Regions from separate parts of the Homo sapiens genome. Here region 1 is linked to region 2. The links come from fine-mapping of genetic effects on gene expression. A gene starts in region 2. The other region holds a variant in brackets. All regions are shown on one strand. Distances are between the middles of the regions. Region 1 has its middle 20 kb from the start of TINCR. Region 2 holds the start of TINCR (TINCR ubiquitin domain containing).

The links. PIP is the estimated chance that this variant, and not a neighbour inherited with it, causes the effect. A credible set is the group of variants that fine-mapping cannot tell apart.
Region 1: its variant is the best candidate, but not a certain one, in a credible set for the expression of TINCR in gastroesophageal junction (GTEx, PIP 0.79).

The regions. Positions count from the first base shown.
Region 1 is chr19:5,545,492-5,549,742 of GRCh38, forward strand. No RefSeq gene overlaps it. Among named protein-coding and RNA genes, the nearest start is that of TINCR, 20 kb to the right of the region's middle. The variant A/G (reference allele first, on the strand shown) is at 1,968.
Region 2 is chr19:5,565,476-5,569,726 of GRCh38, forward strand. It overlaps TINCR (TINCR ubiquitin domain containing), which reads right to left and starts at 2,478. Exons shown (of 3, transcript NM_001396408.1): 1 at 2,190-2,478. The coding sequence starts at 2,449.

The sequences.
Region 1 (4,251 bases), 20 kb before region 2:
CAACCTCCACCTCCCGGGTTCAAGCAATTCTCATGCTTCAGCCTCCCAAGTAGCTGGGACTACAGGCACACACCACCATGCCCAGCTGATTTTTGTTTTTTGTGTTTTTTTGAGACGGAGTCTCATTCTTGTCACCCAGGCTGGAGTGCAGTGGTATGATCTTGGCTGACTGCAACCTCCACCTCCCGGGTTCGAGCTATTCTCCTGCCTCAGCCTCCCAAGTAGCTGGGACTACACGCATGCACCACCACACCTGGCTAATTTTTGTATTTTCAGCAGAGATGAAATTTCACCATGTTAGCCAGGCTGGTCTCGAACTCCTAGCCTTGAGTGATCCACCCACCTCGGCCTCCCAAAGTGCTGGGATTACAGGCGTGAGCCACCACACCCAGCCGATAAACTCCCTTTCATATATACATCTATCTTATTAGTTCTGTCCCTCTAGAGAACCTCTAGAGAACAAATACTTTAATATTAATCTATCAGGTATCCTTCCCCACTTTATACCACCCTTATCTAGTCTATGGGGGACACTACTAATCTATCAAGTAACCTTCCCCACTTCCTGCCACCCCCACCTGTATGTGGACTACAATAGAAAGAGAGACTTGAGGCTGAAGGAAGCCCAGCGTAGGTATGAGGACTTGTTCTGGGCTTTGACGCATCCATAGGAGTTTTCTAGGTATGAGTAGGGTCTGCTGAAAGGGCTTTACTGTGTATGCAAAAGCCTAGAGAAGTGAAGGAGAGTGTGACTCATTCATGGACTAATAAGTTTGTCTCCTTGAAGCTGGAGAGGCCTTGAAGGCCAGAAAAGGAGCCTGAACGTCATCCTGTTCATCCTGTTCACAGTGACACGGTCACCCAGGCTCAATTCCACTCCCCATCTTCCAGTTTCTCGGCTTCCTCCAACACCCGACCTAGCTCCCAGGTGTTAAGGTCAGAAGTGAATGCACCTGTGAATTAGTGAAGGAATGAGTGAGCAGAGGCAGCTGCTTCAAGGTTGTGTGGTGATACATCCTTCTGAACCCTGCCCCGGTGCTTCACGGTACAGGCTCCAGAGAGGACTCAGCCTGGGACCCTGCCCCCAAGGATCCCCAGGCTGGGACTGTGGGATGGAGCTGGACACAGACACCCAAGCTCTGCAGAGTCAGGGCTGGTGCTGAGCGACCTTGGAGGGGAGGACATTGGAGCTGCGTGCAAAGCTTTTTTTTTTTTTTTTTTTTTTTTGAGAGAGGGTCTGGCTCTGTAACCCAGGCTGGAGTGCAGTGGTGCAATCTCAGCTCACTGCAACCTCCACCTCCCGGACCCAAGTGATCCTCTCTCCCAACCCAGAAGGCGGAGGTTTCAGTGAGCCGAGATCGCACCATCGCACTCCAGCCTGGGCAACAAATATGGATGTGGGGGAATAGGCAAGCAGGTAGGTGGATGTGGCTGGCTGCGTGGAAAGAACAGGGGTGGTGGGGGCAGCCAAGGATCAATCAGGCACTGGTGAGAAGTTCTAGCTTCATCCCGAAGGCAATGGGAGCCATGGAGGGCTCTGGACAGAGGAGAGACATTGCCAGACCCAGGTGCTCACAGGAACCCTTCTGGGGGCTACAGCGGCAACAGATTGTGAAGGGAGGTGATTGCATTGGTCTGGGAAAGTGACGATCATGTACCTAAACCCGCGTTGTCCAACGTGGGAGCCACTGGCCACATGTAGCTATTGAGTACTTAAAATGTGACTATCGGATCGGGCACGGTGGCTCACGCCTGTCATTCCAGCACTTTGGGAGGCCGAGGCGGGTGGATCACTTGAGGTCAGGAGTTCGAGACCAGCCTGACCAACATGGTGAAACTCCGTCTCTACTAAAAATACAAAAATTAGCCAGGTGTGGTGGCACGTGCCTGTAATCCCAGCTACTTGGGAGGCTGAGGCAGGAGAATCGCTTGAACCTGGGAGATGGAGGTTTCAGTGAGCTGAGATC[A/G]CACCATTGCACTTCAGCCTGGGTGACAAGAGTGAAACTCTGTCTCAGAACACACACACACACACACACACACACACCCCAGAAAAAATAGCTCATTCACAATTTTTTCTATAGATTGCATGCTTAAATGATAAAACACATTACTAAAACTAATTTCACCTGTTTCTTTTTACTATTTTTTATTTTTTGAGACGGAGTTTCGCTCATTGTTGCCCAAGCTGGAGTGCAATGGTGTGATCTCAGCTCACCGCAACCTCCACCTCCTGGGTGCAAGTGATTCTCCGGCCTTAGCCTCCCAATCAGCTGGGATTACAGGCGTGCACCACCACGCCCAGCTAATTTTGTATTTTTAGTAGAGACCAGGCTGGTCTCAAACTCCCGACCTCAGGAGGTCCGCCCGCCTCAGCCTCCCAAAGTGCTGGGATTAGAGGCGTGAGCCACTGCGCCCAGCCTTCTTTTTACTGTTTTTTTCTTGTGGCTACCAGGAAATCTTTAATTGCCCACGTTGATGGCATTTGCATTTCTAAAATGCTGCAGCCTTTGCACCGACCACCAGAGAGTGCTGTGCCCATGTGGCAGGATCAAGCAATCCGGAATCTGAAGGAAAAGAAAGTAGTTCAAGCTGACGATCAGTTAGATCAGTTCTTACAATGGAGACACGTTTACCATCTGGCATCTTTCAGCATCTAAGGGAGACAGATCTGCCTGGAGATAGGGAGTCTGCCGCTGATCCTCACACCATTTTATCCTGCTAGGTGGGGGACAGAATGAGGCCTGCAGTCAACTCACAGATTCTGCAGCTTTTTTTTTTTTTTTTTTTTTTTTTTTGAGACAGGATCTGGCTCTGTAACCCAGGCTGGAGTGCAATGGTGCAATGTCGGCTTACTGCAACCTCCACCTCCTGGACCCAAGTGATCCTCCCACCCCAGCCTCCCAAGTAGCTGGGACCACAGGTGTGCAACACCATACCAGGCTAATTTTTGTAGTTTTTATAGAGACAGGGTTTCACTATGTTGCCCGGGCTGGTCTTGAACTCCTGAGCTCCAGTGATGCCTGCCTTGGCCTCCCAAATTACTGGGATTAAAGGCGTGAGCTACAGCATTTATTAGATACCTACTGTCAGGCCTCTGAGCCCAGGCCAGGCCATCGCATCCCCTGTGACTGGCACGTATACATCCAGATGGCCTGAAGTAACTGAAGATCCACAAAAGAAGTAAAAACAGCCTTAACTGATGACATTCCACCATTGTGATTTGTTCCTGCCCCACCCTAACTGATCAATGTACTTTGTAGTCTCCCCCACCCTTAAGAAGGTTCTTTGTAATTCTCCCCACCCTTGAGAATGTACTTTGTGAGATCCACCCCTGCCCACCAGAGAGCAACCCCCTTTGACTGTAATTTTCCATTACCTTCCCAAATCCTATAAAACGGCCCCACCCGTATCTCCCTTCGCTGACTCTCTTTTCGGACTCAGCCGGCCTGCACCCAGGTGAAATAAACAGCCATGCTTCTCACACAAAGCCTGTTTGGTGGTCTCTTCACACAGACGCGCATGAAATTTGGTGCCGTGACTCGGATCGGGGGACCTCCCTTGGGAGGTCAATCCCCTGTCCTCCTGCTCTTTGCTCCGTGAGAAAGATCCACCTACCACCTCAGGTCCTCAGTCCAACCAGCCCAGGAAACATCCCACCAATTTCAAATCCGGTAAGCGGCCTCTTTTTACTCTCTTCTCCAACCTCCCTCACTATCCCTCAACCTCTTTCTCCTTTCAATCTTGGCGCCACATTTCAATCTCTCCCTTCTCTTAATTTCAATTCCTTTCATTTTCTGGTAGAGACAAAAGAGACATGTTTTATCCGTGAACCCAAAACTCCGGCGCCGGTCACGGACTGGGAAGGCAGCCTTCCCTTGGTGTTTAATCATTGCAGGGACGCCTCTCTGATTATACACTCACGTTTCAAGGGTGTCAGACCACGCAGGGACGCCCGCCTTGGTCCTTCACCCTTAGTGGCAAGTCCCGCTTTCCTGGGGCAGGGGCAAGTACCCCTCAACCCCTTCTCCTTCACCCTCAGTGGCAAGTCCCGCTTTCCTAGGGGGCAAGAAACCCCCAATCGCTTATTTCCGCACCCCAACCTCTTATATCTCTGCACCCCAATCCCTTATTTCCACACCCTGACCTCTTTGTGCCCCAATCCCTTACTTCCGTGCCCCAACCCCTTCTCTGCTTTTCTGGAGGGCGAGAACCCCCCACCCCTTCTCCGTGTCTCTACTCTTTTTTCTGGGC
Region 2 (4,251 bases):
CCAGCATGGAGTCTGGCACACAGTAGGCACACAATAAATGCTGACTCTGTACTGCATAATTACAGTCTGGACGTCTGAGGGTCGTCCAGCCCCCAGACCTCATAGAAGGTACGCTGCCGAGAACACCCTCTCCTAGCCCCAAGCTCTGAACCTCCATCCCTCATCATCCTCTCAGCCTCCCCGTCCCCGCTAAGATCTTCCCTCAAGAGGGCCTGGGGAGGGGGCCTCTCCTGCCCCCATTGCAGCCCCAGACTCCTGCAACGGGGTGGCATCTGAGGCTCCTGCCCTCAAAACATCAACCCAGGCTCGGTGACTCAAGCCTCTAGAGGGCTGGTGAATGTGACCCCCATAAAATCCAGGGTAATTCACATGGCCCCCGTCCCTCTCCTGTTCAATGCTTCCAAGGAGGTGGTCCCAGGCTCTGAGACGAGGCCCCACCATCTTCACCACCTCTCGGCCATCCTCGACCCATTTCCCAGAGCTGCCCCAGGCCGGCAGTGAGCTGTTCCCGTGGCCCCAGCGCCCTTCTCTGCAGACCCCTCCTTGGGCCAGAAGACGCCCCACTTGAGGGTCGTCTTGGCCAGGGGACCTCTTTGGGGACCCAGATATCCAAGTGTGAGTGTGGGTAACGGACACTGGAGTGGGGCTGTGGGAAAGATAAGGCGGTAGGGAGAGACCAGAGAAGGAAGAGAGAGACAGAGCTTCAGAGACAGAGAAAAACAGCAGAGAAAAATGCAGAGACACCAGAGAGATAAAGAGACACAGACACACATGTTGAGACACAGCGAGAAAAAGAGCAGAGACCAAAATAACAGAGACAGAGACACAGAGAGAGAAATACACAGCGGGAAGAGACAGAAATGGACAGAGACACGCAGAGAAACAGAGAGACAAAAGAGACACACAGAGAGAAAAAGAGCAGAGACAGAAATGGAGAGAGACAGAGAAAGAGAGACAGAAATGGAGAGACACACAGAGGAAAGAAAGCAGAGACCAAAATGGGCAGAGACACAGAGAGAGACAGAGACAAAAGAGACAGAGACTCACAGAGACACAGAGAGAGATGCGCGCACACACAGACAGAACTGGACAGGGACACAGAGACAGAGACACAGAGAGACAGAGAGAAAAACAGCAGAGACAGAGACAAATGGACAAAGAGACAGAGAGACAGGGAGAGAGAGACACACACATACACAGACACAGAGAAAAACAGAGACAAAAATGGACAAAGAGACAAAAGAGACAGACACAGAGAGACACAAGGAGAAAAACAGCAGAGACAGAAATGGGCAGAGACACAAAGAGACAAAGGGGAAGAGAGACAGAGACACACACACAGAGGAAAAAAGCAGAGACCAAAATGGGGAGACAGAGACCAGAGAGGGAGACAGAAAAGAGAGAGGGAGACAGAGATGAGGGAGAAACAGGGAGGAAAACAGCAGAGAGAGAAGTGGGCAGAGACACAGAGTGACAGAGAAAAGAGAGACAGAGACAGAGACAATCACAGGCAACCAAATCATCAGGGAAAGAAATAAACAGAGGCAGAGATGGAGAGAGACACACAGAGAGGAAAAAACAGAGACCAAAATGGAGAGAGAGACAGAGACAAAGACAAAAGAGAGAGAGGTGAGGAGACAAAGATGAGAGACGCAGAGATAAAAGAGACAGAGACAAGAGACAGAAACAAGAGGGAGACAGAGATAAGAGATGGAGATGAGACAGCCACAAAAGAGATGAGAGAGACAAAGATGAAAGAGACAGAGATAAAAGAGAGACACAGACAAAAGAGAGAGATGAAAGAGACAAAGAGAGGCACAGAGATAAGAGTCAGAGACAAGAGACAGAAAGAAGAGGGAGAGAGATGAGAGACAGAGACAAAAGAAGAAGAGACAGAGATGAGAGACAGAGACGAGAGAGTGACAAAGATGAGAGTGACAGAGACAAAAGAGAGAGAGGCAGAAAAACAGCAGAGACAGAAACAGGCAGAGAAACAGGCACAGACAGAGAGCCCGAAAGCAAGACCTGACACCGGCAAGGCCGGGTCAGGAGAGAGGCCGGGCGGGCAGCGCGAGGTGGGAAAGCAGTGCCGGCCCGGGAGGCCGCCTTGGGCGCCCGCCTCCCCCGCCGCTCTCCAGGGGTCCCCGGCCGCCGCCCCCGCCCCACCCCACCCCGAGCCCCGCGGCCACCTGGGGTCGCTGACGAGCAGCAGCACCGAGCCGTCCTGCAGGCGCGCGTCGCGCACCGTCTGGTGGTCGTCCAGCCGCCGCGCGTTGTAGTAGAAGGCGCGCTTCCAGGAGCTCACGCCCTGGCCCACCAGCTGGGCGCGCAGGTCGCTGAGCGTGTCCCGCGGCCGCACGGTCAGCGGTAGCAGCAGCGCCTCGTCCGCCAGGTGCACCTTGATGTGGTAGCGCTTCCAGCGCGACAGCCCCCGCCGCAGCCCCTCCATGGCGCCCGCCCGGCTCCGGCTCCAGCTCTGGCCCCGGGCCCCGAGCGCCCCGCGCACCCGCCCGACTAGCCTGGCCGCCCGCCCCCGCCGCGCCCGCGCTCCGCCCGCCCGGACACGCCCGGCACGCAGTGGGCAGGCCCGGCCCGGCGGGGCGGGGCGGGTGCCACGGTCCCCTCAGGCGTCCGCTCCCCACTGCTGGCCCCAGAGTGCGCCCGGGGGTCTAGAGGCGGAGTGGCCACTCAGCACAGAGCCATCAGCGAGGTCATCCCAGCCAAGGAGACGCGCGAATGTCCAGGGGGTTACATGGTGGAGGCTCCAGGGAGGGAGGCTGGGAGGCCACTTTATTTGATCTTTTTAAGGACAGGCTGGAGCGCAGTGGCGCAATCATGGTTCGTTGCAGCCTTGACCTCCCGGGCTCAAGCGATCCTCCCGCCTCAGCCTCTCAAGTAGCTGGGACTACAGGCGCTGCCACCAAGCCCAGCTCACTTTTGTAGTTTTTGTAGAGATGGGGCCTGGCCGTGTTGCCCAGGCTGGTTTTGAACTCCTGACGTCAAGTGATTCTCCGCCTTGGCCTCCCAAAGCGGTGGGATTATAACCCTCAGCCACCACGCTCAGCCTACATTAAAAAAAAAATTTACTTTTAGGCCAGGTGCGGTGGCTCATGCCTGGAATCCCAGCACTTTGGGAGACTGAGGTGGGCGGATCACATGAGGTCAGGAGTTCGAGACCAACCTGGCCAACATGGTGAAACCCCGTCTCTACTATAAGTACAAAAATTAGCCAGGCGTGGTGGCACATGCCTGTAGTTCCAGCTACTCAGGAGGCTGAGGCAGAAGAATCGCTTGAACCCGCAGACAGAGGTTGCAGTGAGCCGAGATTGTGCCACTGCACTCCAGCCTGAGCCACAGAGCGAGACTTATCGCAAAAAAAAAAAAAAAAAAAAAAAAAAAAAAAATGGCCGGGTGTGGTGGCTCACGCCTGTAATCCCAGTACTTTGGGAGGCCCAGGTGGGCAGATCACAAGGTCAGGAGATCGAGACCATCCTGGCTAACGCGGTGAAACCCCCCCGTCTCTACCAAAAATACAAAAAATTAGCCGGGCGTGGTGGCGGGCGCCTGTAGTCCCAGCTACTCCGGAGGCTGAGGCAAGAGAATGGCGTGAACCTGGGAGGCGGAGCTTGCAGTGAGCCGAGATCGTGCGCCACTGCATTCCAGCCTGGGAGACACAGCGAGACTCCGTCTCAAAAAAAAAAAAAAAAAAGAAAGAAAGAAAGAAAGAAAGAGGGAGAGAGAGAGAAAGAGAAGAGGAAAGAAAGAATGAAAGAAAGAAAGAGAGAGAGAGAGGAAGAGAAGGAAAAAAAGAGAAGGGCTGGGTGCAGGGGCTAACGCCTGTAATCCCAACACTTTGGGAGGCCGAGGTGGGCAGATCACCTGAGGTTGGGAGATCGAGATCTACCTGACCAACACAGAGAAACCCCGTCTCTACAAAAAATACAAAAAAATTAGCCAGGCGTGGTGGTGGGTGCCTGTAATCCCAACTACTCAGGAGGCTGAGCCAGGAGAATCGCTTGAACCCAGGAGGTGGAGGTTGTGGTGAGCGGAGATCTGCCATTGCACTCTAGCCTGGGCAACAAGAGGGAAACTCCGTCTCAAAAAAGAAAAGAAAAGAAAAGAGCACCTGCTAAGTGACAGACAGTCTTCTAGGTACTTTATTGGGGTGGGGGAAGCATCTCTTACTTTTCTCATGACACTATGACTTCCCATTTTACAAGTGAGAAAACTGAGGCATAGAGAAGAAAAGAG